Homo sapiens: one gene and its partners. The protein of the gene in region 2 interacts with the protein of the main gene of each other region in a pairwise test. Each region holds a gene or a part of one and is shown on either strand. Other genes may lie near its edges. The genes, in order: ZSCAN4, TBC1D22B, LHX8 and SPATA2.

What was found.
Region 1: the proteins of TBC1D22B (region 2) and ZSCAN4 interact in binary tests that used the Homo sapiens proteins (3 or more experiments, as listed by UniProt).
Region 3: the proteins of TBC1D22B (region 2) and LHX8 interact in binary tests that used the Homo sapiens proteins (3 or more experiments, as listed by UniProt).
Region 4: the proteins of TBC1D22B (region 2) and SPATA2 interact in binary tests that used the Homo sapiens proteins (3 or more experiments, as listed by UniProt).

Annotation. Positions count from the first base shown.
Region 1 is NC_000019.10:57,664,675-57,672,296, reverse strand, and holds the start of ZSCAN4 (zinc finger and SCAN domain-containing protein 4), read right to left. Parts: upstream 3,363-7,622; 5' UTR 3,094-3,362; intron 2,053-3,093; 5' UTR 1,730-2,052; intron 1-1,729. UniProt on the Homo sapiens protein: Embryonic stem (ES) cell-specific transcription factor required to regulate ES cell pluripotency. Binds telomeres and plays a key role in genomic stability in ES cells by regulating telomere elongation.
Region 2 is NC_000006.12:37,252,757-37,261,323, reverse strand, and holds the start of TBC1D22B (TBC1 domain family member 22B), read right to left. Parts: upstream 3,553-8,567; 5' UTR 3,407-3,552; coding exon 3,351-3,406; exon of another isoform or gene 3,180-3,350; intron 1-3,179. UniProt on the Homo sapiens protein: May act as a GTPase-activating protein for Rab family protein(s).
Region 3 is NC_000001.11:75,130,266-75,137,871, forward strand, and holds the start of LHX8 (LIM/homeobox protein Lhx8), read left to right. Parts: upstream 1-4,122; 5' UTR 4,123-4,689; intron 4,690-6,117; exon of another isoform or gene 6,118-6,337; coding exon of another isoform or gene 6,338-6,349; coding exon 6,350-6,424; intron 6,425-6,834; coding exon 6,835-6,996; intron 6,997-7,606. UniProt on the Homo sapiens protein: Transcription factor involved in differentiation of certain neurons and mesenchymal cells.
Region 4 is NC_000020.11:49,911,919-49,919,873, forward strand, and holds the start of SPATA2 (spermatogenesis-associated protein 2), read right to left. Parts: upstream 3,612-7,955; 5' UTR 3,462-3,611; exon of another isoform or gene 3,112-3,461; intron 1,785-3,111; exon of another isoform or gene 1,574-1,784; intron 1,044-1,573; exon of another isoform or gene 1-1,043.

The DNA of each region.
Region 1 (7,622 bases), on a different chromosome or scaffold from region 2:
CATTCTTAGCACCTTTTCTGCTTGAATTTTTTTCCCATTAACAGTTACCATTCCTTAGAACTTTACTGCTTTAACCAAAGCTACTATTTTATGTTTATCTGTTTTTACTCCCTGTCCTTTCCTACTGATGTTTAGGATTCAGAAGTAAAAGTGAGTTTGCATTGCTTGAAATTGATTTCTAATCCCAAATCAGATTATCTGGACAACTAGAGACACACCCTTTGAAATCCTGAATGGATAAAGAATTTAATCCCTTTTCTGTTAATATATCATTGCTATTTTTGTGTTTTTTCTCCAATTTTATATATGGTTAACATTTCAAAGATTTGTGCAATTTTGAAAAAAGCAAATTTCATGCCATAAAATCAGAAAATGGTAGGAGTAATACGTGGACACACAAAAACCTAACTGATTTCTGTTAGTTAATGTTATTTCCTGCTTTGTGTTAATCTCATCTGGTCTGATTAGACCAGATCTGCTACCCTGATCGCATCAGTTAATAAGGCAGAGGTGATCCTGGTAAAATCTCCTAGGAGACAATGGAACACATTCTTGCCTTTCCCTAACCCAGTTGTCATAATGCTTCCAGTCAACGTTTATAAAATGCTAATCTGCTCACATCATACCCCACTCTACTCTCTGGATGGCTCCCCTTTGCCCTCAGGGAAAAGCACTGAGTCCTTGTCCTACGAGGCTTTCCTGGGCCAGCTCTACACTTCTCAAGCTCCATCTTAGGTGTTGTGGCTGGTTCTCTATATCCAGGGACATTGGTCTCTCTCTCTCTCTTTTTTTTTTTTTTTCCTGTGGAACCCATGGCTTCCCCTTCATTTCACTTCCCTCCAAGTTCTCTTTTTGGATTACCCACCCTTTCTCCCCTATGACACACAGACCACATGTTCACACTTGGAGACATGCACTCCGTCCCACATAGACAAGACTGCAAAGTATTATGGCTTATTTCCCAGAACCTGGGAATTCAAAACAAGGCTACCGGAGCTCTAATCTGGAGTCTGGCAATTACAAACTGTGACGCAGGCATGCTACCCGTCAGGTCTGGGTCTGTATCCTGGGCTTTATGATCTCTAATGACACCCAGCTACATATTTCATATAATGCAATACAAAGGAATTACTAAGCTGGGCACAGTGGCTCACATCTGTAATCCCAGCACTTTTGGAGGCTGAAAGTGGGCAAATCACTGGAGGCCAGGAGTTTGAGACCACACTGGGCAACATGGCAAAATCCTGCCTCTACAAAAAATAGAAAAATTAACCTGGTGTGGTGGTGTGCGCCTGTGGTCCCAGCTGCTCAGGAAGCTAAGGTGGAAGGATCACTTGAGCCTGGGGAGGCTGAAGCTGCAGTGAGCTGTGATTGGGGCTACTAAACTTTAGCCTGGGTGATAGAGATCTTGTCTCGAAAAAAAAAAAAGAATTACTAGAACATAAAGTCATACGATAGACTTTTTGAAGAAAAATCTTCAGTCACACCAGGCCTTTATACAGAGTTCACAACATCAAGCCCTTTTGGGTCAGAGCTGTTGTAACAAAAGACCATTCCCTACACCTGGGAGACCCCCATATCTCTGTAGTTAGGAATTTTCCTGAAATAGCTATGCCTACATACACATGTATACACACTCAAAGACACAAAATTATGTATACACACTCAAAGACACAAAATGTATACACACTCAAAGGCACAAAATTTTCCTTCCATTATGGAAGCTTACCTCCTTGGTTGACTGGGTAATCCCGGGCCGAACACTGAGCTGATGTGTGACTAGCTTTCCACACTGGGTTTATCTGATGTGCCTCCTAAGGCTGCTCCCTTTTATAGGGGCTGGGATCAGTGATTGATTTAAAGACGTGATTGGATAACACTTGTCTGTTGATTGAATTACTGATGGAATCTTCATCCAGCCCCAGCTCCATGTCAGTGATTGATTTAAAGACGTGATTGGATAACACTTGTCTGTTGATTGAATTACTGATGGAATCTTCATCCAGCCCCAGCTCCATGTCTCTAATACAGTGTTCTATACCATCACTGGTCCTGGGTCAACAGGTCATAAACAAACACATTAATATTTCTGCAGGCTAGGTGCAGTGGCTCACACCTGTAATCTCAGCACTTTGGGAGGCTGAGGCAGGCAGATCACCTGAGATCAGGAGTTCAAGACCAGCCTGGCCAACATGGTGAAACCCTTTCTCTACTAAAAATACAAAAATTAGCCGGGCATGGTGGTGGGCACCTGTAATCCCAGCTACTTGGGAGGCTGAGGCAGGAGAATTACTTGAACCTGGGAGGCAGAGGCTAGAGTGAGCCAAGATTGCGCCACTGCATTCCAGCCTGGGAGACAGAGCAAGACTCTGTGAATCCCTAGCCTGAGCAACAAAGCAAGACCCTGTCTCTACCAAAAATAATGTTAAAAATGTTAGCCAGGCATGGTGGCATGTCTGTGTAGCTTGTTTGAGCCAGGGAGTTCATGGCTACAGTGGATTATGACCGCCCTACTGAACTCTGGCCTGGGAAATGGAAGGAGACCAAGTCTCTAAAAAAAAAACAAAACAAAACGAACAAAAAAAAAACCATGCCTGTAATCCCAGCACTTTTGGAGGCCGAGGTGGGCGGATCACGAGGTCAAGAGTTCGAGACCAGCCTGGCCAATATGGTGAAACCCCATCTCTACTAAAAATGCAAAAATTAGCCAGGCGTAGTGGCGCGTGCCTGTAGTCCCAGCTATTCAGGAGGCTGAGCAGAAGAATTGTTTGAACCACAGAGGCGGAGGTTGCAGTGAGCTGAAATTGTGCCACTGCACTGCAGCCTGGGCGACAGAGGTAGACTGTCTCAAAAACCAACAAACAAACAAACACACACAAAAATACAAAATCTGCGGTAAAATGTAACAAGGTCCACATTAAATGAAAATATAAAGACAGGCTGGGTGTGGTGGCTCGCGCCTGTAATCCCAGCACTTTGGGAGGCCGAGGCAGGTGGATCATGAGGTCAGGAGTTTGAGACCAGCCTGACCAACATGGTTAAACCCGGTTTCTATTAAAAATACAAAAATTATCTGGGCGTGGTAGCATGCACCTGTAATCCCAGCTACTCAGGAGGCTGAGGCAGAAGAATTGTTTGAATCCAGGAGGCAGAGGTTGCAGTGAGCCGAGATTACGCCACGGCACTCCAGCCTGGACGACAGAGCGAGACTGTGTCTCAAAAAAAAAAAAAAAAAAAAGGAAAATATAAAGACAAACGTTAGTCTCACAAATTCTGATCAAGTTTTATTATAAATTACTCATAGAAACATGACAAACTTTTGCTCAAACTTTTAAGTTTTCAGAGATTTATGAATTACAAGGGTGGCAGAGGGCAAGGCTAATGCTGTGACTCCTGTGCCAATTCCAGGCTGGTGAAACAGAGGGGGCCCGGGACCCAGAGAAGGCATTCCTAATCCATCAAAAAGATGACAGGGGTTGAGACTAGGATTATATCAGTGGAAAGGGAGAAATTGGTGCATATTTTATATTGAGAAAGCATATGATGTTTGATAGACTTAACATGAGGCTTGAGAGAGATGGAGGAGTTAAAATGGTGAGAAGCGCCTGGTCACCTAGTGTGGTGGAAGCTGTGCCTTCTTCCCTGCACTCTCCCTCCCCACTTTCCACCCTCATACAGGCTGAGGCTTTGGTGGAGTTGAGAACGTATCGAAGGGGTGGGAGCTAATTACAGCCATGTGTTTCATCTGCTCCATCAGGCATGCAGCCTCTTGGGGCTTAGATTGTCCCCCTATCACTGTTGGGTACAGAGTTTGAATCTCCTGGTACTCCACTGATGAAATGTCTGCTTGACTTCCCCACATTAGGAATTATGTTCTGAATCCTCACATTATAAGACTGTGTACTAGTCCATTTCTCCAAGGAGTTTCATCCACATATACTCCATACAGAGAAGTATCCCTGCTCCCATCAAGAGCCAATTTTCCACTGGTGGTTTAGGTCCTGTCACCAACTATGTCATTAAACCAACTGTGACAGGAAAATTGGCTCTTGATGGAAGCAGGGATACTTCTCTGCTACAACAATGAAAAATGGGCTGGGCGCAGTGGCTCATGCCTGTAATCCCAGCACTTTGGGAGGCCGAGGCGGGTGGATCACCTGAGGTCAGGAGTTTGAGACCAGCCTGGCCAACATGATGAAACCTCGTCTCTACTAAAAAAATACAAAAATTAGCCAGGCATGGTGGCAGGCACCTGTAATCCCAAGTACTCGGGAGCCTGAGGCAGGAGAATCACTTGAACCTGGGAGGCCGAGGTTGCAGTGAGCCAAGATCGCACCACTGCTCTCCAGCCTGGGCGACAGAGTGAGACTCTGTCTCAAAAACAAACAAACAAACAAACAAAAAACAAACAAAAAAAAAACAATGAAAAATGTAGACAATGTGAGTACCACTGGAGGCCAGTTGTTAATTTGTGGTGGGTTGAAAGCATTTCCTGTCTGCTTCTGCAGTCTCAAGGAGTTCCTTGAGCTCTGTAAGGAGCTGTAAGGAAAAGGTTTGGGGAAAAGCTGGCAATTTCTGTTTGGAGGAGGTTATTGGATTTTTGAGTTCAGATATACAGCCAGCTGTTGGACATGCTGGTGTGTAACTCTGGGAGCAGTTAGACCTGAGGCACGATGATATCAGTAAGAGTAGTAATAGCATCAGGGATCATAATAACTAACCTTTAAGCAGTCAGGGCATATTTGACTCTGTTCTCAGTGCTTTCTGTATGTTAACCCATTTCCATCACAACAGTCCTGTAAAGTAGATCCTAAATAACTCCATTTTAACATCAAAATAACAGAGGCACAGAGAAGTTCAGTACCTTGGCCAGTGCTACATAGCCTGTAAGTGGCTGGGCTAGGATTTGATACCTGGCTCCAGAGTGGGACTCTGAATGCTACATTAAGAAGGCAAAGACACACAGCCACTGTGTAAAACCAGCAGCTTTCTAGGGAATGGGCTAATGGAGGAGTGAAGGGCATGAGCAGGAGGATTTATCCTTGGGGAAACACAGATGGTGGAGGAAATGACCTGGTGATACCCCAACTTAGGCATAGAATAAACAGGCACAAAACAATAAAAATAAATGTGAAATCCACATAGTAATTTAATCAAATAAGGATATTACAAAGACAACTATCAAATGCTTTTCTGATCAATTGGGAAGGCAGGTAGTGCTGCCTTTGGTAAAAATAGATGACCCGTTTACATCCAGCATCATCTCAACTTGTGTCTGGTGAGTATCCCCGCTCCAGTGTGAGTGAGGAAAATAACCTTTGTTTCCAAGAAGACAAAGCCAATCCGCCTCAGTATGTAGGAAACAGTGATTTCAATTAGAATAATAATAATAATAATAAAAACCTGGTAGGAAAATAAACAAAACTGTTAACTTTCTATTTTTTTCGAGACAAAGTCTTGCTCTGTCGCCCAGGCTGGAGTGCAGTGGCACGATCTTGGCTCACTGCAACTTCCGCACCCAGAGTAGCTGTGATTAAAGGCATGCGCCACCACACCCGGCTAATTTTTGTATTTTAGTAGAGACGGGGTTTCACCATGTTGGCCAGGATAGTCTCAAACTCCTGATCTCAGGTGATCCGCCCACCTCAGCCTCCCCAGGTGCTGGGATTACAGGCGTGAGCCACCACACCTGGTGACTTTCTTTTCTTTTTTTTTTTTTTTTGAGAAAAAATATTTAGTCAATTTATTTATTATTTATTGATTTTTGGTTGTTGCACCTACTTTAATAACAACTTCAAAAAAGGAACAACATTCATCCGGTTCTAAATGTCTTTATGAACGCAAAGACTGGGGTCCCCTGCCAGCTTCCGAGGCAGCCCTGCACCTCCCGTAGGTGGCCGCACTTGGACCGCACCACTCCATTAGCTAAAAGCTACAACAGTCGTAAAGAGAAGGAAAGAACTGGAGAGCCAGCACGCGAAGCTTATCCAATGCTTCCAGTCATACAAGCAAGCTGCAGGATCTCATGGAGGTGCGTGGATCACCCCGTGGAAATTCTCCAGGGCGCATCGAAGCTTAGCATGTTTAGTGGAGACTTGGACAAAGCCCCGAGTCTGTACAGGACCTGTAGGAACCATGGCAGGCATCGGCTGCTTCATAAGGATCTGATATGGTTCCTTTTTAAAAAGCGCATTCTTCAAAAGGCAAACTACCCAATTTCCTTTTAAATATGAATACAATACAACTTATAATACATACACTTGTCAAAATTGTGTGCAAAGAACTGCCAAAGTGACTTTCTCAAATTAAAAAATTGTCCTAAGATGATTTTCTGTAAACCTACTTGGGCCTCGCAAAGATATTTTAAGTATCAGTATTATTATTGAGACGGAGTTTCACTCTTGTTGCCCAGGCTGGAGTGCAGTGGCACGATCTCGGTTTACCACAACCTCCACCTCCCGGGTTCAAGCAATTCTCCTGCCTCAGCCTCCGGAGTAGCTGGGATTACTGACGTGGGCTGCCCAGCTTATTTTGTATTTTTAGTAGAGATGGGGTTTCTCCATTTTGGTCAGGCTGGTCTCGAACTCCTGATCTGGTGATCCACCCGCCTCAGCCTCCCAAAGTGTTGGGATTACAGGAGTGAGCCACCGCGCCCGGCCTTGGATTAATTTTAGAAAAAGGGTGACTTTAGGTCAAACACACATTTACAAAAGAACAATGATTCACCCAGGAGCTGACAGGTGCAGACTGATGTCAGTGAACTTGTCTGCTGGCTGCTTTTGTATGAGCTTTAAAAAAAAAAGTATTAAAATTTAAAATACAAAATTTGACACCAAGTGTAAACATATTTGTGTCTGCAGACACTGGAGATACCAGGTGCCTCCCTGTATTTAGCAGCCTACACAAATGGTAAGGGGTGTGCTGCGGGATTTAGCCTGCTGGAGTGGCTGGGATGGGAAGAACCGCCAGAAGCCAAGTAGATACACTCCAGGAAAAGTATCAGAACTGAAGTTACAGAAAATGGAATCCTAGCAGCACAGTGGCAGCTAGATTCTTTTTGCTTTTGTCTGTAGCTTGCATTAGCAGAGTGCAATATGCAATTACTATCCACTTTACTATTCTAATCGTGCAGAGATCCCAAAAGGTAAAAGACCCCTATGCTTCCAGCCAGCAGCGGCTTTGCATGAGGACTGCCAGGCTCTCAGACCCCACATCCCTTGGCCTTCTTAGTGGGGAGAGCTCCCAGAATGCCGCTGGCTAAAAGCCTATTTTGCCCCTGGTCAGTCATGGAATAGCCCAGTTTAGCCTCATTGTTAATGAAGGACATCAATCCCAGGCCGGTCTCCATGAGGAGGGGGCGCTCCACGACCAGCACGCGTGCGCTTGTCCTGGAAAAGGACTTTCCTTTTTGGCGTTTTTGACCTTGGATTCACAGAGCCTTGAAGCTTTTCATCTGGCAGAGTTGCTGTGTTCTCATCCGCAGCAGCCATAGCGTGTTGTATGAAATTGGCACAGGGTACGTTTGTGGACCAGGGATTCCATCTGTTTAAGAAGGAAAGGCGACTTCGCTTGCCCCACTGAATTCGAATCCCAAAACCTTCTCGCTTGTTGAGCGATTTAGG
Region 2 (8,567 bases):
AGTAGCTGGGACTACAGGCACACACCACCAAGCCCAGCTAATTTGTATTTTTAGTAGAGATGGGGGGTTTCACCACGTTGGCCAGGCTGGTCTCGGACTCCTGGCCTCAAGCGATCCACCTGCCTCAGCCTTCCAAAATTCTGGGATTACAGGCCACCACACCTGCCAAAGCCTGCAATGGTAGAGATTGCCTCTTATCTTCTAGGCATTAATACAATGACCATTTGATGTGCTAAGTAAATGGGGCTCATGTGAATAACTGAGAGAACTTAAAAGATGCTTAGTTCCACCAAGTTACTACATGACCCAGCAATTCCACTCCTATTTATCAGCAGAAGAATAGAAAATATATATCCAAACAAAAACCTCTGCATAAATGTTCATAAAAGCATTACGTACAATAGCCCAAAAGTGAAAACAATTCAAATATCCATCAACTGATGAATGAACAAAATGTGGTGTATGTATACTATGGAATATTATTCAGCCATAAAATGGAATGAAGTACTGATACATACTACAGCGTGGACAAGCCTGAAATCACTGTGCTTAATAAAAGAAGCCACTCACAAAAGGCCTCAGATCATATTACTCCATATATATAAAATGTCCAAAAGTGGTAAATCCACAGAAACAGAAAGTAGGTTAGTAGTTACCAGGGTCTGGAGTGGGGTGGATGGGGAGTGACTGTAAACAGGTATGTAGTTTCTTTTCAGGATGATGAAAATGTTCTGAAATTAGTGGTGATGGTTGCACAAAACCATCTATACTATAAATGAATATACTAAATACCACTGAATTGTACACTTTAAAAGAGTGAATTTTATGGTATGTGAATTATATCTCAATAAAGCTGTTATTTTTAAAAAGAATGTTTCATTCATTTGCAACTTCTTTTATTTAATAAAATTTCTATTTGTTGTCACTAAGATTGTTGGATCATGATCAGACAAATGGAAAGAACCCTGTCATCGCTTTTATTTTTCACCTTTCAATTTGCAAAGAAGAGTAAACTAGTTTCATTTCCAAGTTTGCATGCATCCAGTAGAGTCATTTGTGTCATTTCCCCACCCAGGAGAAAGTTTTTCTTCTCTAAGACCGAAAGAGTACAGATGCAAAAGTTCTATTCTTGAGAAAATGCCCTAACATTTTCTTTAAACCAAAGTACCTTTCTATCTAAAAGAACCTTAGTTTTCTCCTATGACCAGAGGCTTGTGGGCTTCACTGCTAAAAGCACACAGCTGAACAGTATTTCTCTTTACCAAGTAAGGTACTAAAAACTATTATGAATTGTGACAATATTTGAATACCTTAAACAACGAAGACAATGAGCTGGGGTAAGGATCTGAGTAACATTATTTTAAATGTTTACTTGCTGTAATAATGACAGCAATGTTAATAACTACTGTTTTTTTGAGCAACTATAATGTGCTAAATAAACACTGTCCTAGGCTCTTTACAAATAGGGTATTTCACTTAGTCCCCACAGTAACTCTGAGGAAAGTATTTTTATTTCTCATTTCATAGGTAAGGAAATTGAGGCCTAGAAAGATTATTTGTCTTGGTCACACACACAACAGAGCCCAAATAGTAACCCAAGTCTTTCTGAACTCGAAAGTTCTCTATTTCTCTATATTCTTCAAAATGAAAAAGGAATCCAGAAACTTGAAGAAACTGAAAAGACTTCTCTTCCTATCTCAGAAAAGTAGTGCTTTAAAAAAGTTGACTGTTCTTATAGCCAAATACAGGAAATATAGGAAAAAAAGATTGTTAATAGCAACCAGCAGTCAGAAGGCACAGAAGCCCATGCCACGTCCCACATCTCTTACACTGCTTCCTGATACAACAGTCTTCCTATTGATTATGATTATAATCTTAGGATGTCAAAATTTAATGATCTCACTACGGAAAACCCCAGAGAATAGCAGTTAGCACAACTAGAGAGCTCACTAGACCAGGAAGGAAAAGGAATCAGTTGGCAGGAAGTGTGCTTACCTAAAAACACAGAACATCTTTAACAGTAATATTAACACTGTTGAGTCCACAGCACTTTAATCTGAAGTTATCTTTGCATTCCTTTCTATTACTTTAATAAGTATTACTAAAAGCTGATTTCCACCCTATTCTCCATATGTCTACTAGAATCCTTAATAAAATAAGACTCTTGGTGGGGCATGGTGGCTAACGCCTGTAATCCCAACACTTTGGGAGGCCAAGGCAAGAGGATCACTTGAGGCCAGGAGTCAGAGACCAGCCCTGGCAACACAGTCAGACCTTGTCTCTATTTCATTTAAAAAAAAAAAAAAAATTAAGGCTCTTACCTAGCCACTACTGACCCTCATCTCTCTCTCGCTTAAAAAAAAAAAGTCACGAGTTCAAAAGATTATCCCAGAAGGAAAAAACCTGAATCCATTAGAAAAGGTAGCACAGGGGACACAACCAAACATGAATTTCATCACCAAGTAGACTGTAGCTGGCAGAAATCTTAAATTTACGACTGAAATACACACTCTTCCTTATACTTCTCAGGACTTTGCCCAAAATAAACTGAAACAGTAAACCAACAGTAGATTGATGGATGGATAATTTGCCAAAAGTCTCAACATACACCGAAAAGAGGGTGGGGGTAGTCTTAGGGGGTCTGCTCTCCAGTTAAACAACTGAAGAATGAACGAATTTAGTGCATTTGCACAAGAAGTGCATTACAATGCAGGGGAGGAAGAAGTCACTTGGGGTTGGACAAATCCTTAGAAAATGCCAAAGGAATAACCCTGATTCTGTGGTCGTCTTGTAATAATTCCTAGTGGGAAAGGGCCAACTCAAGATAAAGTAAGGTCAGGGTTGAGAATCGTCCTCACTTTTCCTGCCTAACCCTCTCGGCAGGCGGCCCCAAACTCCCACCGGAATCCTTCGGGTAAGTGCCGACCTCAGGGATCAAGGGAAGGGGCCATCCTCGAGCGACCAACCACCTGTGCGTGGTGGAGACCCCTGAGAGGGAGTCCTAATTAGAGTGGGAAGCAGCTCTGGGGAGGAACTTCCGAGACCAGGGCCGACACTGACTATTCACCCAACTCCACTCCCCTTTACGCCCAATCTTCGGCCACCTTCCCGCTGAGGTCACCCCTCCTGAAACCTCCGCCCCCAGACCCCGGTCTACACCCACATCCAGCCGTCCCCAAAGCTCGCTGTTCGCTTCGCTGCCTGACAGCTGCCCTGCCGCCACCAGGCAGTCCCAGCTTCCCCAAACCAGTCTTCTGGCCTCTGTGGCGCCCCAGGCCCGCGGGATTCAGGGATTAGGATCTGGAAGGGTTTGGTCCAATCCCCTATCCCTCTCAGCGTCCTGGGCTCACCTCCCCGGCAGCTTAGCGCTCCTCTTCCAAAACTGCTTGCTGTTCTCAGCGGCCATTGCTCTGGCCGGGGGAAGTCCTTGTAGGCGGGCCAAGGGTTTGCCCGGCGAGATGCCCCCAGACCCCGCAATCTGAGGGCCAACCCAGGCCGCTTCCCCGCCGCCGGTCACCCGCTCCCAGCTCCTGGGGACGCCATCTTGGATGTGGGCACCCCTCCACCCAGCACCGCTGCCATTGGTGAGCTGCGCAAGCCGTGGACGGGCCGACCAATTGGGAGCCGGAATCCTGCAGGCCGCTGAAGCCGACCGGTAACGTCAGGGGCTGGGCACACAGGTGGACGGGGAAGGCGGAGCTTGGACGAGCCGAGAGGCGGGGCTCAAAGTTCCTACCCGCGAGAGGGAAGAAGCAGGTAAGGTAAGGGACCTATGGGAAGGAAGAGGGGATTATCTTCTTCGTGAGGAATGAAGTTCCTTAGTCTAATATTTCTTGGCAAGAGAGAACATACTATGTATTTATATATAGGAATCTTTCACCTAAAAGTAAGGGCCCATGTGTTGGTTGTGGCCCATTTTTAACATCTCTCAATTCAATGACACTCTGGTTATTACCCTCCTTTCCTCATTCCGTTTACATGTCCATTCGTTTTTCTGAAGGAAGGTCAGCAGGGACCCGATAGCCCGGGATTGCTAACTGTTCAACACGTGAGCAACGGTTCATCAGAGTCTCCCTCTCCCTCTGTTTATTGAAAACGATTGAAGGACTTGTGCTGTGGGTTAAAAATTCAAATGATCTAATCCCTATGTCAATCCATAACTCTCACTTTCTGACTATGCTAACAGTGTATATAGGAAATGGTTTATGATAGCTGTCCAACTCAGATTACCAAATACCATTTCTTTGAAGGACACAGTATTGCTCCATCGTGTGAATCACAAAGTTAAGGATGTATCTCCTCCCGGCCCCACCAACATCCTTAATTTCCCTTGTTAATCTATTATAAATCTTGCACCCTTGAATTTATTTTCAATCTAATTTTCCCAGACAATGAGATTTAGTATTAGCATTTTGAATCCTTTGAATGTCTTGTCAGCGTTTTTTGCTGGTTTTGAGTTTCTGTGGTTGTATTCCGTGGTGATTTGGGGAAAGAGGGAAGGCGGGCACCAGTCCAGAGTGGTTTTTGTCCCTTCGAAGGACTGTTGAGGTGGGCTGCGTGTCCCCCACCCCCACCCCCACCCTCCATTTACAGCTACCACATGTACTTCCACATATTGGAGAATACTTAAAGACCTGACCCCTGGCCCCAGCCAAAGAAGGACCTTCTTTTATATGTCCTCCAACGACGGTTTCTTCATTACTCCCATTTTCAAGCTTCTTTTGTCCCCTAATTTAAGAATTATAGGATTGGATGACAAGGGCTATTTTTACTTCCTCTGAGTCTTTCATGCTATAAAAGCATCTTATCTTCTTTATGGGCATTTAACCCAGAGAAAAAAAGCCCCTCTATTCTTTTAATTATTTTACTTGCCTTTCTCTGGCGCTTCTTTTTCTTAGGATGCAGTGACCAGCACTGCACACTAAGCCCAAAGAGGGATGTACTGAGGCTTTGTTAAGGCTGATGTTTTGTCTTTATTCTGGACAGCCAGACCTTTTGCTGGCTGTTTGGACTTTAGAAGAGTTGATGTCTTGAAAGAGTAATCTAAAACAACTTCTAGATTCCTTACCTTGGTGGCAACCAGCAGTTCAGAGTTCATTGTCTTAAAGGTATCCTCTGAATTGTCTTTCCCTATGTGAGCTGCCATACACTCATCCATGTGACAAGATACCTGCCACTTTCCAGCTTATGCACATGGCTTTAGAGATGTTCCAGAAGCTGCTCCCTATTGATTTGACATTTTACTATGTGGAAAGCAAAGTATGATTTGTGTATCTAGACATATCTCAAAATACTCCTTTTTCTTAATCTTCTATGAAATGTTAAATGACACTGATTCCCAGGGGGTGTAGTTAACAGTGCTCAACCCAGAAAAGCCCTGTTATTTCTACAGTTTGTTTTCTATATCAGTTTCCCCTCCAAGATTTTTTAAAAATTCACATCAGTTACCTTGTGATGACTTTTTAAATAGGGAAATTGAGATTGTTGGAACCTTTTTCACCACTACCACTTGGTCACCCTAATCTTCACCAACCACACACCTGCTTACAGCAGCCTGCTATTCGGCTCCCTGCTTCCACTCTTAGCCCCTTAGAGTCCATTCCCCATATACCAACCAGAGAGACCTTTTTTTTTTTTTTTGAGACCAGGTCTTGCCCTGTCACCCAAGCTGGAGTCCAGTGACATGATCTCAGCACACTACAACCTCCATCTCCTGGGCTCAAGCAATCCTCCCACATCAGCCTCCTGAGTAGCTGGGACTAACAGGCACATACCACCATGGCCAGCTAATTTTTTGTATTTTTGTAGAGATGAAGTTTCACCATGTTGCCCAGGCTGGTCCCATACTCCTGAAACTCAAGCAATCCACCACCTTTGGCCTCCCAGAGAGCTAGTATTACAGGTGGGAGCCATCGCACCCTGCCCAGAGACACCCTGTTAAAATGTAGACGATATCATGTCACTCCTCTGCTGAAAACTTTGCAATGGCCCCCATTGTACTTGGCATAAAATCCAAGCTCCTTAAAGACCCTACATGACTTGGCTCCACTCACCTCTCCAGTCTCATCTCATTATGCTTTCTTTCTTGCTTAATCTGCTGCAGCCATGCCCATTGGTCTTATTGCCTGGCTCTATTTTTCTTTAAAGCGCTATCACTACAGGCCATATTATGTACTTGTTTGTTGTCCATCTCCATCCCCTAGAGTAAAGGCCCCCTGTCTGTTGCCTGTTAGGAACCAGGCCGCACAGCAGGAGGTGAGTGGCGGGTGGGCATGCAATCATTACTGCCAGAGCTCCGCCTCCTGTCAGATCAGCAGCAGCAGCAGATTCTCACAGGAGTTTGAACCCTATTGTGAACTGCTCATACAAGGGATCTAGGTTGCATTGCGCACTCCTTATGAGAATCTAATGCCTTGTGATTTGAAGTGGAACTGTTTCATCCTTTAACCCCCCTCCCCCAAAATTTTCATGGAAAAGTTGTCTTCCCTGAAACTGGTCCCAGGTGCCAAAAAGGTTGGGGACTACTGCCCTAGAGATCGTGAACCCCACTAAGACTGGGACTTTGTTTTGTTCCCTGCTGTATCCCCAGCACCTAGAATAGTGTTTGGAACATAGTGAGTGCTTAGTAAATATTTACTGAGTGAAAGAAGGAAGAATATAAATATTTCTTGTCTTTCGATTCTATGTTGTTCACATATTTTTATGTTAGGAAAGATGATAGAAACAGTGTTTCCTAACCCCTAGTAGGATGTGTCCACTTTACCAATGACTCTACATCCTTGCCTACATCCTTGGTTGAAGAACAGTCTTCTCTGAGAAAGATTGTATTCTTCAAACTCTTTTGCAGCTTCAAAGGAATGTGCCTGTACCTGGAATGATGAGGGAGGGAGGCCACCCACCTAGTCAGGAGATCAGTTGGTAGCTGTCATCAAAGGGCTGATAGGTATGGCAGCCACCCTTGCCCAGCAAGAGGTGTAAATCATTGGTTTGAGGTTCCCAAGGGGTCCTTAGAGGCCTTCTGATGGAGGTCCTTCTTGGCAGACATTCACTGGTCCACTAGACCAGTGCTTCCTATACTATATTGCACATGTGAATCACTGAGGATTATATTAAAAACCTAGATTCTGATTCAGGAGGTCTGAGGTGGAGCCTACAACTCAGAATTTCTAACAAGCTCCCAGGTGACACTGATGCTGCTGATCCATGGACCTCACTTTATAGATCTTCTGTTACTAATACAGTATGGCCTGTGATTGTTTACTTTATCTCAAGAGTTTATTTTGAAACTGTAAGTAGAGGCTTCTGCAAGTTTTTACTTTCCCCCCCTCAACTTCATCTTCATTCAAAAGAGGGTTAAACAACTTAAAATGTGGCAAAGTATAGTTAAGGGATGAGATATGCCTGGGTTGACTGTGGACTCAAAAGAGGTAGGCATATCCCAACCCTTAGAGAAAGTTTTATGAAAGAGATAATCCTTGAGTAGGGAGAGAAAAGGAAAGAGAAAGGCCTGAAGAACTATAGGAGGAAAGTCACTTCAGGACAGGAGCTCCAATGGGAAGATAAAAATAGAGAAAAAAGCCTTTGGACTTACAGAGAGATCCCTGGCAGACTTTAACCTTAGTGAAGGAGTGGAGTGGAAGGAAGGAAGTAGACACTGTGATGAGGGGAAGGGTTAAGAAATGAGAGCAAGAAGCAGCCCTCACAATGCACTGTGCAATGTTGGGCCACCTAAGAGATAGTGAGGTCAAGCTGGGATTTAACAGCAAGAGAGCTTTATAGTATCTAAACAACCACTGTTAGAGCCAATGGCAGAGATCAGTTATATTAGAGAAGGCAAGGGGATAAGCAAAAAGACTGAAAAAGTAAGAGGTTATAGGAATAAAGAGAGGAAGAGAAAGTTTTTAGAATTTGGGGGGTGAAGGGAAAACTAGGTATTTCATTCCTAAGAATTTATTCTAAGAAAAGAAGTCACCATACCTGGCAAGAAGAAAGGGGGAAATCTCTGTGTACAAAGATATTCTTTGCCTTGCAACCAATAATAAACAGGGGAAAATGAAAAGAATATGAAGATTTAAACATGAGAAGAAGTTATGTAAATTATGGTGTGCAGTTTATAAACTTGAACCATGTTATACCATTAAAGAGGGCAAATTTGAATGCTACATAGCACATCAAAAAGGTGTATGAAATGTACAGCAGGGAAAAGGTAGAATATAAAATATCTTTGCATGATTTCAATAAGAATATATGGGTTTTGTCAAAGATTGGAAGAAAACGTGGAAAAATTAAGCAAATTTTGGTAGAGGGTAGAATTATATACATCTTGGTACTTCTGGAACTTTTCTTTAATGTTACCGTTTTTTAATATTATAAAATATACATCACCTGGGTAACAGTAGCTCACACCTGCAATCCCAGCACTTTGGGAGGCTGAGGCAGGTGGATCACTTGAGCTCAGGAGTTCGAGACCAGCCTGGGCAACATGACAAAACCCCATCTCTATCAAAAATACAAAAAATTAGTGGAGTGTGGTGGCACACACCTGTGGTCCCAGCTACTCAGAGGCT
Region 3 (7,606 bases), on a different chromosome or scaffold from region 2:
AGAGCTTACTGGCGCTCTGCGAACCGGCTGGAAAGAAACACCGAGTCACTCGTACAGACTCTTGGTCGCAGAACTTGGCTTTCCGCTATTGGTCCTCCAGAACCGCTTGAAACAACTGGCCCCAGCTGGCGCATCAGACCGCAGTGAGGAATGCCGCGGGGCGGGTGGCGAAGGCAGGGTCTGCCCGCCAGTGGATTCCCGGGTGTCCCGCGTGGAGCAGGCTTGCCCAGCTGGGAAGCCCATCAAACCTCAGTCTTGGCCCACAGTGGGAGAGAGACCAGTGGGTCCCAGACGGAGGCCCTCGCCCGCTTTTGGCGACCTCCACTGGCGTGAATAAAAGCACCCCTCTCTTACCCTCAGAAACTGTGGGTAGCAAGGTATAAAACGGAGTCTGGGACCGGTAAGTCCCAAGGTGAGCCCGTATACAGCTCTGCCATCTCTGAGGGGTTATGCAGATTCTGAGCAGGGTAAGTTTGTGGAAAGAACCTCTAGAAGCAATCTCCTAAAGTCTTTTTCCAGACTAATATTTATAATGGTTACACGTGATGGGCAAAAATCCAAAGACACGGTCTCCTAACCCTGAACCAAGTGTGACATCCACAGTTTCAGAGTGGTTTTAGCTGAGATTTCACCTTCAGGGATCGAAGGAGTCGCCAACCAGAATTCTGCCAGAATCCGCACCTTCTTATGATCGCGAAAGTCTCCCCATCCTCCACCGCCTCCTACAGTCCTATGGCCCACTGTACCCTTGGCGCTGGAGCCCTGGAGGTGGGCGGTGAGGGCCGCGGGCCAGGGAAAGCTCGGGTCCGCAAGAGCAGGGCTCTGTTTCTGCGCCTGCAGGCCGCCCGGGAGTCCTGGATGCGCCTCCTTTGACCACGTTTTCTCTCAGGCTCCAGCTGTGCCTCGCCCCGATCTCCACAGGTCTGACCCAGGCGAGTCCCTAGAAGGCGGGCGGGAGGAGCCGTAGCAGGGGCAGTTTCGGGAATCCGAGTTTCCGGAGATTGCCTGAGCACCGCAGAACCTCCAGGTTAAGTTCTCTCAAACGTGTGGTTACTCACCCCGAGGAGCTCAGAGGCAAAGGGTTCAATAGTCAAGTTGGTGGGGACTTTCCCTACTTAAAGTTATAATTTGCTAATTCGGATCTATTGCTTTTAAATATCGAGTTCCAGAGACCTCTGTCAATGCAGGCTTAATTTCATCCCACTGATGAAGGATGTTTATAAACGGCGCCTGCAGTGCGAGCTGAGTGTGAAAATATCAGTTTTATGCCTTTTGATAAGAATTACCGAGGCGGAAGGCTCATTAGACGATTACAAATTTCGCAGCTGCTCGCAGCCCAATTAGGCAGCTCTTCGGGTGAGTGGAAGCTGTGGGGGTCAGGGCGGGTTGATGTTCCCTCTCTCCAGCCCGGACCTCCAATCAAGGCCTGGCTCCACGGGATCTAGACCCCTTCCCTGCCCCCATCTGTTTTTAGGGAGATACACTCAAGGCTTCCCTTAAGCAGGAGAGGCACAGCCTGGGACAGGACGCACTCCGAAGTCTCTCAGGCTGTCTTTCCCATGGGCTTGCAAAAAGCCCTGTGGTCCACGGATGTTGGTAGACACCTTGGGTGGGCCTGCCGCCTCTGATTTTCAAATTTTCAATTTAGTAGGTAGGAACTGTCACGACGCAGGCGATTGCTTTTCCACCTGTGGACACATAAGATGATGTTTTTTTGATCAGAGTCTTCGTTCAAAATTGGAATCAATTGGCGTTTGGGCTAAAAACCCTCATTACTAAGACCAAACAAACAAACAAAAACTCTTTTGATTTTTAGCGCACCCCTGTAAAGTAGGAAGATAACTTTTCCGTTGCCCCAGCCGAGGATGAGCGTGGGTAAGAGGCGTGACGCGAGCTCCAGGGAACCGGGCCACCAGGAAGAAGCTATACCTTCGTACGCCCACCCCTGACAAAAGGTCAGAAGGTCGTTGGACCCCAGACCGACAGGACGATCAGCCCTGGGATTCATAGCAAACACATTCCCCTCTTCTTGCACACTCGACCCCCAGCCAAAGGCTTATACCGCCCAGGACATAGAAATTGACTCACCGCCCAGAGGCTTACAGCTCAAGGAGGGGTGCGCGCAGCTGCACCCCGGGACAGGTCAGCATCCCACAAGGCGCCTGGAGTAAAGCGAGGCCAGACCAATCTTTCACGTCTTCTGCTCCTGTCTGACGACCATTCTTCTTCCCCAAGCCCAGAAACCTCTAAAAATGAATCATTTTCTCCACTTATGCAGAGATAGACGCTCTTAGATCAAGGTTAGTATTTTGAAAACCTGACTGAGAGCCGCCTGATTAGGCGAGGGTGGGTGGAAAGACCGCATAAATGCCCGCACCCCCGCCCTGCTTCCCTAACACAGCTCCAGCTCTCTCTGGATCTCCAAATGACCCGCGCGATAAATTCTCCTCGATAGTAGCCAGACAGTACCCCAGATTCACTTTAAACCCTAACACACACACACACACACACACACACACACACTGTAATTAAATATCCAAACCGGACCTTTATGTTTAATTCCACTTTCAACGAAATCCTGCTCTATACACGACCTGATGGCGCCAATGTTCTGCACGACTCTGACTTTCCATTCGGAAGAGCGGTCTCCACAACGATGCTATTTCATGGAAAATGCATTATGTGAATTTCTCCACCACCCCCAATACCGATTTCTGCATTTGATGAAAAACACAAGTCTTTCTGGTTCCCACGCACAAGTTAGCTTTTTGAAAAGTCAGTCCACCCCAATCTTTCAATTTTCTAAGAGGGCACAGATTAATTATATCGTCCTCCTCCCTTCGCTCAGTAAATTTAAACGAGATCTCCCAGAGAGGACCGGCAGGGGGATGGCTAATATTAACTTGTGCGCAGCTGCGCGAAAAGAAAAACAATGGCGATAGGAAAATGCTCTGAAGACTCTAGTGTTTATGGGAGAAAAATGCAATGGAGGAAAAACTAAATTTGTAGTGGTAACTCGGTCCCAGACTCTTACACAGGCTCACTTCATCACAGGAAAGGCTATCTATCTCCTCCGCTAGCCGGCTGCTGACCGAGCTGGGGTCTGGGCAAGATCATTTCGCTCTTTTTCTTCTATACAAATAAGGCAAGGAGATAAGATATGTGTGTGTGCGTGTGTGTGTTTTACATATATATTTCCATCTAATTAAAGCAAAATCCTATGATTCTGTTAAAGGCCTTTAAGAAATAGACTCCTAGATCTTCTTAGTTTCAGAAGTTTAGCTTTTTAAATGGAAACAAAAATCATTTAAAAATAATCTTTTAACCAAATTTGTCTTTATACACTAAATAATGAAATAAAGTTTATACCACAAAGAGTCTGTTTAAACAAACACACCTTCCAATCTTAATCAAAATTAAGGTACCCTGAATACCTCCCTCCGCCGCTTCCCCGCCCCGCAGTCAGAACTTGAGGCAGAAGACAAGGCTGCTCGGGCTTACATTTTGTCTAGGAGATGAAAGAGCAATACTCATTAGCAACATACTTTTGTCTTTCTTGTAGCCTTGATTTCAAATCTAGTCGCAAATCATAAGCTTTTGTGTTGCTCAGATGTTCCTTCTTTATCTTAATGAGAAAACTTTTCGGAAAGGGAGCGCGAACTGCTAGATAAGTCAGCTCCCAGGCTGCCAGGAGCGGTGGCATTCCTCGGCTACACCGGACAGCTGCGAGTTTCAAGAGAATGACTAAAACTTTCAAGTCACCCAGACCTCCACTTCCCCTTCTGCTTGCTGCAGAAAGAGATGTAACCTGAATCTTTGTTTAGGTTTGGGTTGGGGAGCGAGAATTTAAAAGTTATGGCAAATGCAGACAGCAGATTTTTTAAAGTCAAGTTAACAGGACATCCCCCAATTTTTTTTTCTTTAGTACTAAACCTGAAGTCAGTTGGCGTGTTCTGATAAAGATTTTAACATGTAGAGAAGGCGGGTTTTCCTGAAAGAGGCGAAGCAATTTCTCCAGGAAAGACTTTCCCCCACACGCCCCCTTCCTTTATATTAGGTTCCACCCTCTGGAAAACAAAACTTTTTTTTTTTTCTTTTCCTGGAGGGACTCAGGAAAAGCTCAGTGCTCACTTCACTCAGAGCTCAGTGAAGCTGGGAAAGGAATTTTAAGAACGGTTCATCAGAAAGTGGTCAGGCCACAGCGGCCTCTTTGGACGAAGACACACTTGTAGCATTATCCTTCTCGGCATCAGCTTTTATTAGTGGATCGGGGCGGGGGAGGGGGGAGATCGGCAGACACGGACAGCCTCTGACCCTCTGGAGTTGGTATGTGATAAGCAGCCCTAGCAGTGCCATGTATTGGAAGAACGATCAGATGTTTGTGTGTAAACTAGTAGCAAAGGACGTGCCGGAGCTGGCAGTTCCCCCTGAGAAGGTGAGCGAGCCGACGCCTGGCCAGACCAGCTGAATCGCAGTGTCCTTGAAACTCGAGTTGTTTGGGCTCCTAAACAAGGTTCAGAAACTACCTGTAACGGCCTCATCTTCAGACCTGGCAATTTTTTTTTTTTATTACGTAGTAGCGTTAGTCAGTAATCATTGCACTCCCTCCCCAAAAGCTCACTTAACCTGAGACATGGAGACTGTAATTTGGGAGATGAAGCCTCGAGCCTAAGGCGCTCTCAGGTCCATGTGAGTCGTGCTTTTGTTCTATTTGCTGTGGTGATCGTGGCGGTCCGGGAGAGTGGGTCGGGAGGACTGGGCGGCTGTCGGGTGGAACCGGAGACCTGGCTCGTTTCGTTCGGCTGCCCGCGGACACTTGCCTGCCCTGAGGCACACCTCCCTCTGCGGGGCTCCAGAAAGGCCTCCGGGATCCCTGGGCTTGCCGGGAGAGCCATTTTACCTAAAATGCCAAAAGAAAACCGCAGGGCACAAAACGAGTCACGCGGTTTGTCTGAGTAGACTGGGGAAGCTGACAAGCTCTCACCTCACTCGGGAGGCAGGACCTGTGGGTATTTGGTGTTTTAAGTTTGAAATCATCTGCAGCCTGTCTGAGGGCCTCAGCAGGACGCGCGCGGGGCGCCCCTGACTATTTCTTTGCTCCGAAGCCGGTTGGGGACACCAGGCGAAAGCGGAGCTGTTCTGTTTAAACGCCCTTTGTGTGTGAGGACGCGGCCTCAGTGCAGCTACGCTGGGTCCCGCGTAGGGAGCGCACCCCAGAAAGGGAGGGTCTCGGCCGACGGTCCGGGAGGCCCCCAGGTTGGTATCTTGCCTGGTGCTTCCAGAGGGAGGGAGAAGGGGAGGCGAACAGTCAGAAATGCAGAAGTGCGAGCCGCTCGAGTTCGGGGTACCCACCCGCCCCCGAGCTAGAGTTTTTGGAAACGAAAGCGGTCTAAGCCCAGGGACGCTGCGTTTTCGTTTAAGAACAAAACTCCAGCAAATACTTGGAAACACTTGAGTAACGCGCGTTGTTTCTTTAAAACATTTTGTCAGAGGTTGGGTGAGTTCTTTTAATGGCACAAATTAAATTCAGCTGGATATTTTCCATTATTCTACCCGCTTTTTGCGCTGGTTAAAAATAATCCTTTAGTAGCTCAAATGTTGACTTACTGAGCAATAAGTGGCAATTTACACCTTAAAGAAACGAGTGTAAATCACTCGCCACTCTAATTGCTGTAAGTTTACGAAAGAGCTGCTGGCTCGGTTTAATCTGAAGCATTTTCATTCAAATTGTCATCGGAACAAACACCAGGCTTCTTAAATCCCGCTGTAATTAGCTTTCAAGTATCCTATTAAACCTCTTCACCTTTCGGGCTATCCTATTCAAAAAGCCCCCTTTTTAAAATATATATGTGTCTTGCTCTTTTAATTGAGGTTATTAAAGAAATCTAGTTTCTTCTCCCACCCCCTCCTCAATCCTCTTTTCTTCTCTCGCACTCCACCTCCCACTGCCCCGCACCCCCTTTAGCCCGGTGTTCCCCGCTCCGCTATGATTGACGTCTGGAAAGAAAGAGCTTTGTGAGGGGATGATTGTTATTAACTTGTTATCCCCGGCGGGGGGGCGGGGAACCGACGTGCCCGGGTGAGCGCCGGAGACCCGGAGCCCGGGGAGCGCGGGACGAGCTACCAGCGCTCGGGTGGCGGCCGCCAGCGGCCAGCGAAGGAGGCTGCGCGCCAGCCCGCCCGCGGCGCCCGGGCTCAGGCGCCGTGACGGCTGCACGCGCTGCCCCGCACTCTGAGGGCCTTCATTAGCTCGCTCCCCGCGCCGAGGCTGGGGCGGGCAGCACGCTCGGAACTTCTGATCTGTTTCTCCATACTTTCTCCCCCTCCTACTCCGCAGTGTCAGGGGCTCATGTCAGAGGAGTGCGGGCGGACTACAGCCCTGGCGGCCGGGAGGACTCGCAAAGGCGCCGGGGAAGAGGGACTGGTGAGTGCGGAGGGGCTCGCGTGCTGGCAAGACTGGCCGTGGGGAGGCGGCGCAGGACGAAGGGCCGCTGTCCCCGCGCTCCTTCCAGGGCCCAGCTGGCCCCTCCTGCAGCAGACAGAGGACGGGGCGGAGAGGGTCTGGGTGGGGTGGGAAGCTTAGCTGGCCCGCGAGGAGGGCAGGGCCGCAAGACTTCTGGGGTCCGAATAGGTCAGGGGTCGGCAGCCCCAGCGGGTGCGTAGCCAGAGCTTGGACTCGGGGAAGAGGGCGAGAATCGTGACCTCAAGAAGCTGGGGGTGGGGTGGGGTGGCCAGGGGGAAGGGAGGGGAGGCGGTGGGGGCGCCCTTGTGGGTAGGTGGGATGCGAAGGGGAGGAGGGGTCTAGAACCGCCTGCGCCTCGCGGTTTCCTGCAGGTGAGCCCCGAGGGAGCGGGGGACGAGGACTCGTGCTCCTCCTCGGCCCCGCTGTCCCCGTCGTCCTCGCCCCGGTCCATGGCCTCGGGCTCCGGCTGCCCTCCTGGCAAGTGTGTGTGCAACAGTTGCGGCCTGGAGATCGTGGACAAATACCTTCTCAAGGTAGGATAGGGCCTCGGGTGCGAGGCCCAAGGGGAGCGGGCTTAGCGTGGGAGCTCTGGGAAAAGAGTAATGTTCCTCCCACCAACCTTTCCGTTCAAGTTCTGGGTGAAGGTTGTAGGCTTTTGCAGAAAATCAGCCCAGTTTAGGGCAACTCATGCGGTGGGATAAAGTGAGAAGAAATCCCAGACTCTTCTATGTCGTTGCAAAACAGCTAATGTGTGACACATCCTGGTCTGGACGCGCCGGATGTGTGTGGATGCGCTGGAGTCAGCCACTGGCTTGTAGTGGAAGGGAAGTGGAAAAACCCTTATCCATTCTGAGACAGAAACCTGCTTAGTTATTTTTCACCCAGCCCCGAATTATTCCTTTCTTAAACATCTTTGTTCCCTCTAAACGGACTGTGGTCTCTCCACCCCAGTGACGCCCACGCCCATGACTGCTTAGAAGAATTTTAAGTTGGTATGTATTAACTGATTCCCTTTTGCAGTGTCTCTTTTGGTGAAAGCCACTGTAAAGTAGCTTAAAGGATCTTTTCTGGACAAATTTTAAAAATACAGTCCTATGTTTTTTTACAGTTACCTGAGGCTTTTCCAAAGTTAAAGTTTATAGG
Region 4 (7,955 bases), on a different chromosome or scaffold from region 2:
CACCCCACGATTCCCATGTCCAGCAAGCATTTCTGCAGCCCCCACCCTCTGCCTGAGCTGGACCCAGTCGGGGAATGGGGATGGGTGGGACAGGTAGAGGACAGCAATAAAGGAGACACATCCTGCCTGCAGCTCTAGCTGGAAGAGCATACCACCTAGTATCAAAGTAGGTATGTGCTCTAACTTCATACTGTTCTGTCCATAAAAAAATAAACAATTTAAAATGTATATTCTCTTAAAAAATAAAAATGCAGGCCAGGCGCGGTGGCTCACGCCTGTAATCCTACAACTCTGGGAGGCCAAGGTGGGTGGATCGCCTGAGATTGGGAGTTTGAGACTAGCCTGGCCAACATAGCGAAACCCCGCCTCTACTAAAAATACAAAAATTAGCTGGACGAACACCTGTAATCCCAGCTACTCAGGAGGCTGAGGCAGGAGAATGGCGTGAACCCAGGAGGGAGAGGTTGCAGTGAGCTGAGATCGTGCCATTGCACTCCAGCCTGGGCAACAGAGCAAAAACTCCATCTCTACATAAATAAATGTATTGCACCACTGGAGAGGATAGTCACACATGCATTTACCATTCTTGACTTATCTAAGAGAAGCTGCCATCACGCCTCTGGCCCCAGGGTCTGTTTTTTGGTAGTCTGAGAACCATTCAAACACAGAGACATTAAGCTTCCGAATACTGCTGTAATTTTTCTCCAAGGAAGTCAGCCTTGAACTCAAAGAGACTGATTTTTTACAAAGTCAGCCAGTCTCAAGCTCGGCTCAGCGTCTGCTGCTCTATAATCGCACCACAGTCCACACCCTTGTTTGTTGCTGAAAAACAATAAATAAAGGAAAGGGATCCAAACAGCCCAGCTGATGTTCAAAATACTCACAATAAGGACAGGAAGCCTATCTAAAACAAATCTCAAACCAACCTGGGTAGGTGAGGGAAAAGGCGGAAGAAAGTAAAAGCTAAAAGATAATTAAGGGCAAGACAAGCCTGGACAACATAGTTAGACTCCGTCTCTACAAAAAAAAAAAAAAAAAAAATTAGGTGGGTGTGGTGACACCCACCTGTAGTCTTAGCTACTTGGGAGTCTGAGGTGGGGGGATCCACTGAGCCCAGGAGTTTGAGGCTGCAGTGAGCTATGATGGCACCACTGCACTCCGGCCTGGGTGACAGAGCAAGACCTTGTCTCAATCAGTCAATAAGGAAAGGAAAGAAAGAGACTAACAATTACTGAGGTTCTACTATGTGCTAAGCATTGGGCTTCCCACTTTACCTACATCATCCCATTTAATCCTCACAACTCTATAAGGAAAACAGGCTCTTCCCATTAAAACAACCTGCCCAACAGAGTTTGAAAGGGTCAGAGCTGGAATCTGAACTCTTGCTGGGAGGCCCTTGATGCCTGGGCTTTCTCCAATTTACCTCACTCATTTATTGTTACATCAGTACCATTTACCAAGGGATTACTGTGTGGCATCCCTCTGCTAACTGCTCTGTGAAAACCAATGAAATCCACAGGATAGATCCAAGGTTAAAGAGGAAACTGAGGCTCGGAGAGGCCAACTCACTTACCCTAAGTCGTAAGGCTAGGAAGAAGTGGATCTGAGCTCTGAACCTAGGTCTAACGCCAAAACTCCGACTCTTGCAAAGCCATCCTGCTGCATCTGCTGGACAGCTCTACTCGAAAGTGTTTGGCTAAGTTAGAATGCCTTATGGCGGCGCGAGCAGAGTTGAGTTACAAAAATTCCTGTAGTAGCAAAATTCCCATCTTCCCACACCGAATGGGGCTAGGAGAGCTAATCTCTATATGATGTAAGCTCAAGGGCCAAGGAAAGAGGCTGGTCAGAGACATCGGCCAGTGATGAAGCAGCTGACATCATCCCTGCTGAAAACATTTTCTGAGAATACAAGATGCCTTGTAGCTGGTCATAGCTGGTGTTTTTTCTGAGCACAGAGCCAGCAATTCATTCCCAGCACTCTGCAAGAACAACAAAATACGCTCTCTGCAAAAACATCGTGGTTACAGGAGACCGAGACAGCCCAGCGACAGAAGCTGCTAATTTCTCCAAGCAACCCAAGGATTGGAACGCCAAGCCGTGCCAGTCTGGTGGAAAAAAAAAAAAAAAAAAACCCAAAAAACAAAAAAACAGCACTGTGAATATCCTGAACACAGAGACAGGCAGGTGCCCAGAGTCAACGGCTCCAGTCAGCACCTCCTGCACCCACAATCTAGGTACCTTCTTGAAAAGCAAGTCAATGGAAAAAGAGATATTGCACAGTCAGGGAGCCAGTGGCTTCTTTAGTTATTTTTTGAACATCTAAGAGGAAAGCTGTATCTGTTTAGAGTCCCACTGCATGGAAGTGAAGTGATTCCGAGTAGCTAAGCATTAGCTTGGCTTTACCTCAGCTGGCCCATTCAAGCAGAAATGTTCCCCAAGCAGCATTTGAAGGCGCCCCCTCTCTGCACAGGCAGACCTATTTTGGTCTGTGCACTGCCCCTGTCCACAGGTTTACACATCCCTGGTCTAGCTCCATCAGCCTCCAAACAGGAGACGGGGAAGTCAGTTCAACCCCCTCCACCTCCCCACCCACACCAATGCACTCGTTCCAAGCAAGAGGCTCCGAGAAACATCCAAGGCACCTTCCACTGGCTGTGAAACACCAGAAGGTCCCCACACTCCTACTAGATTCCAAAGAAATTCACACAGAGTCCTTCCAAACCTCTGAAAATAACCTCAGCGGTGCTGAAAGAAGCTTCCCTAGTGGCAGCTGCCTCTCTCGGAGAAGCTCTGAAGGAAGCTGTTTCCCTCCCTGCAGGGGACAGAAGCTGGCGGCTGCTAAGTCCCAGCTCGGTCATTCCTACAGCCTCGGGGGGCCACGTCAGTTGTGAAAAACAGCCCAGTCTCAAATTCTGGCCCCCCCTACGGCTTCGTGAATTGAATGAAGTAACAGGAACTATCACTTATTGGACGCCTGCTGTATGCCAGAGGCCCTGCATGATCTCATTCCATCTCCACTCCAGCCCTAGCAACCAGGTTCAATCACTTAAATAGGCAACTGAGGCTCTTAAGATGAAGTGACTTATCCAAGGTCACACAGTGAGTACAAACCCAGGTGTGCCGCCAGAGCCTGAACTGGGAACCCCTGCGCGGTAACTGCCTCGTGGCGAAATCGGGGTGTCCTTCTGTTTGGCCAGTCGCCGAAGAGGGGTGTTCCTCTTGGGCGGCCCTGAGCCACCCTCGGCGGGTCCCAGGAGCCTGCGAGGCAGCTCCCGGGAGAATGGGGGTCCTGAGGATAGGCTGGGGGTCCCGGGAGCGCCGAAACAGCGGGCCCACCTGTAGTCCTGCCTGCCGTGAGGGTACCCCGCTCCCGGGCCAGCCGAGCCCTGCCGCTGTCTGGCGCCCCCTCCGCCTGGGGAAGCCCCGAAGGCAGTTTCCGCCCGCGGCCGCCCGTCACTCACCCTGACACTGCCGCCGAGGACGGCCCGGCCGAGGGAAGCAAGCGAGAGGCGCGGCTGCCGCCGGAGCCGGGCCCCGTCGGGCTCTAGCCTCTCCGGCCGGCTGCAGGGGTACTGAGACCAGTACCCGGGGGCCAGCAGCGACCCGGAAACACTCGGCCCGGAAATGATGTCACCATGAGGCGGGCCCGAAGAGAGGGTGGACCACGGCTGCGCGCTGGCTCCGGGAAGCGGTCGATGCCCGCGGCCGACGGAGACTACAACCCAGAGGCGGAGGACAAAGCGGAAGGCCGAAGAGCGAGGACGAAACCGGCGGAACCGCACTTTGGAGCCTAACGAGCCATCGCTGCGTCTGAGACTGGGACCCGGAAGTAAACAGGCCGGACGTGACGCAAGCCGCTCGGCCTAGGGATGGTGGCTGGCCGGGTTGTCATGGAAACCGCTCAGGAGCAGGGAGCTGGGAGCTATGAGTGCTGACTGCGTGAACTCGGCCTCCACTTCCCGGACCTGCCACTTATCATGATCCACGAGCTGTACTCATGACTCCGCACAAGCAAGCAGGGGCTGACGGTCGGATCCCTCGCCCCCATTTTACGGACAGAAGTACCGAGGCTCAAAGAGAGCCAGTGAGATGCTGAAATCACGCGTGATTGGAATCCAGCCTTGCTAGGGCTGCGGGTGTTACGGGCCGTGGGCGGCGGTTAAGAGCGTGGGTTCTATTTTTAGTTTTGCCACTTACTAGCTGTGTGACCTTGGACAAGTTACCTAACCTCTCTGAGCCTCAGCTTTCTAACCTGTAATATTAAATAATAAAGCCAGGCGTGGTGGCACGCGACTGTAGTCCCAGCTAGTCGGGAGGCTGAGGCGAGAGGATGGCTTGCTCCCAGGTGTTCGAGACCAACCTGGGCAACATAACGAGGCCACGTCTCTTAAAAAAAAAAAAAAAAAAAAAAAAAAAAAAAAGCCGGGCACGGCGGCTCACGCCTGTAATCCCAGCACTTTCGGATAAACTATATATATATATAATCTGACATCCCCACCAGACCCTGAGCTTCTTATTCATCTATTTCCCCCCGAGCTCTGCACATGTCTGATGAGGAGGCACACAACAGATGTTCATTGATTGTAGGATTCTCACTCTGAGTCTTGGTGACCCCAGCTAAAACCGGTGGGGCTTGTGTGATGAGTCAGTGACACAATACTGGGAAACGTTTGGAGAACCAGCAATCTGCTGCTGTCCAAACAGTAGCATTACTGTGTTTACCTGTCGTTGCCTGAGCACCGCTCAAAGTCCCTGTGTTCTTTATCAGCTCATGTTTAAGCTCCTCTCTTAATTATCTGCAATGTGATGATGTTCACAGGAATTCCATCTGAGACAAACTGTCCCACCTTAAGTCTGCCTCTTACAGCAACTCAGCACTCTGGTTTGGTAGCTCTTACAATATTGCATTTTCACGTGGGGCTGCTTAAAAAAGTCCCCTCCAGCTCTGTGGGTCTATGACAGGCAAAAGAGAAACAAAGATTTTGAAGAAGGGCTTTACCAGTAGGAAACCCTGGTCATCATCTACTATCAGAAAAGACCCAAAGTCTCCAAAGACAGTCACATTTCTCAGTTTTTTTTTTTTTTTTTTTTTTTTTTGAGACGGAGTCTCGCTCTGTCACCCAGGCTGGAGTGCAGTGGCACAATCTCAGCTCACTGCAAGCTCCGCCTCCTGGGTTCACGCCATTTTCCTGCCTCAGCCTCCGGAGTAGCTGGGACTACCGGCACGCGCCAACACGCCTGGCTAATTTTTTGTATTTTTAGTAGAGATGGGGTTTCACCAAGGTGGTCAGGATGGTCTCCATCTCTTGACCTCGTGATCCGCCCACCTCGGCCTCCCAAAGTGCTGGGATTACAGGCCTGAGCCACTGTGTCCGGCCATGTTTCTCATCTTTTAAACACAGTTGAAGGCTTGTGATTTCTCTACTTGGTGATGTAGAAATGACAGGAGCGTCCTTTCCCGACTTTATTATATAATGATTACCAGATTATGTAAGGGTCACGTGACAATGATTAGGCACTTCTACTTCCGAAGAGCCAACAACACGAACAATCTACCTACCTCTTTCTATTTTTTAGTTTTTTTTTCCATCACCAAAGTAATACATGATTCCAACAATACAGAGGAGTATAGAACAAAAAGCAAAACAGAAAAGCTACCCCATGACCCAGCAATTGGATTTCTCAAAATCTGCTAGAGAAACATACACTGTGCCCAAAGAGACCTCTTGCATCATTGTTTCTAATGCAAAAGCAATAATAGGAAATATTTAAATCTCCATCACTGGGGTAATGGTATATCCATACTAACAAATACTGTGGATCACTTAAAAAGGGTGATGCATGGCCAGGCGCGGTGGCTCACGCCTGTAATCCCAGCACTTTGGGAGGCCGAGGTGGGCAAATCACGAGGTCAAGAGGCCGAGACCATCCTGGCTAACACAGTGAAACCCTGTCTCTACTAAAAATACAAAAATTAGCCGGGTGTGGTAGCAGGCGCAGTAGCGGGTGCCTGTAGTCCCAGCTACTCGGGAGGCTGAGGCAGGAGAATGGCATGAACCTGGGAGGCAGAGGTTGCAGTGAACCGAGATGGCACCACTGCACTCCAGCCTGGGCTACAGAGTGAGACTCTGTCTCAAAAAAACAAAACAAAAAAAGTCAACTGGGGACAGGAACACAGATACAGATATCTGTCTTTCATTCCACAAACACACATTTATGTGATCTGTATTAATATCTTTCTCCCCCAGAAGTCAGTGAACTCCATGAGGACAAAACTATGTCTGTTTTGTTCACAATTATATTACTACTACCTGACATATATGCACTACCTAGCATGCAATAGGTTGTTCAACATAATTTGTTTCTGACCAGAATTTTCACTGAATACCTACCATGTGCCAAGTTTGATGTCAGATTTTTTTTTTTTAATTGAGACAGGGTCTCTCACTCTGTCACCCTGTCTGGAGTGTAGTGGCATGATCATAGCTCACTGCAGCCTCAACCTCCTAGGCTCAAGCGATCCTCCCACCTTAGCCTCCTGAGTGGCGGGGACCACAGTTGCACACCACCACATCTGGCTAATTTTGTTAACTGTTTTGTAGAGGGAGGGTCTCGCAATTTTGCCAAGGCTGCTCTCAAACTCCTGGGCTCAAGTGATCCTCCCACCTTGGCTTCCCAAGGTGCTGGGATTACAGGCATGAGTCACCATGCCCACCCTGATGTTAGGTTTAAAGGGCATAACTGTGAGTGAGACAGACACAGTTCCTGCCCTCACAGAGCATCCAGTCTCCTTAACCGAAAGAGAATATTCATAACATAGGAGTAGGATTAATAAAACCCTAGAATTCAGGATAGAAGATGGTAAATGATATGAGAGGGGTATAGAGCTTAGAGCATGGAGAAGTGACCTCTGACAGGGTAAATGAAGGATAGCCTCCAGGAGGAAGTAGCATTTGAGCTGGGCTTTGAGTGACCTGGACATGTGAGGCTGTCCAGCTTTCCTTCCAGCTGGAGTAAAGGGAGCAATCAAAGGCAAGGACCTGAGATCAAAAACTCGGCTACCTGTGGCTGGGCTCAGTGGCACAAGCCTGTAATCCCAGCAATTTGGGAGGCCGAGGCAGGCGGATCTCCTGAGGCCCAGAGTTTGAGACCAGCCTGACCGATACAGTGAAACCCCATCTGTACTAAAACCACAAAAATTAGCCAGCCTGTAGTAGTGCCCACCTGTGGTCCCAGCTACTCAGGAGGCTGAGGCTGGAGAATCGCTTAAATCTGGGAGGTGGAGGTGGCAGTGAGCCAAGATCACGCTACTGCACTCTAGCCTGGGACACAGAGGGAGACCCTGTCTCAAAAAAGCAAAAACAAAAACAAAAAACAAAAACACAAACTCAGCTACCTGCAAGCACATAATGTGGGCAAATACGAGGTACTAGAGTACTATAGCCTCACACTGCGTAGGACCAGAAATGAGTAATGTAATCTAACATGGTACCCGGCTCACAGTAGGCATCCAATAAGTACTTCAGTGAGAAAACAAATATTGTTGAATTCCTTCCATGCTTCAGCTGACTTGTGGCCAAGATCCCCACTCACCAGGAATGACCAGATACTCTGATTTTTGGAGAGGAGTTAGAGATCCAGATTGTTTGTTTATTTATTTATTTAAAGATAAGGTCTTGATCTGTCATCCAGACTGGAGTACAGTGGCATGATCATGGCTCACTGCAACCTCAAACTTCTGGACTCAAGGGATCCTCCCACCCCAGCCTCCCACACAGCTGGGACTACAGGCTCATGCCATCATGCCCAGTTAATTATTTTCTGAAGACGTGGGATCTTGCTGTGTTGCCCAGGGTGGTCTCAAACTCCTAGCCTCAGGTGATCCTCCCACTTTGACCCACCAAAGTGCTGGGATTACAGGCACCAGCCACTGCGTCCAGCCTGGAATCCAGATT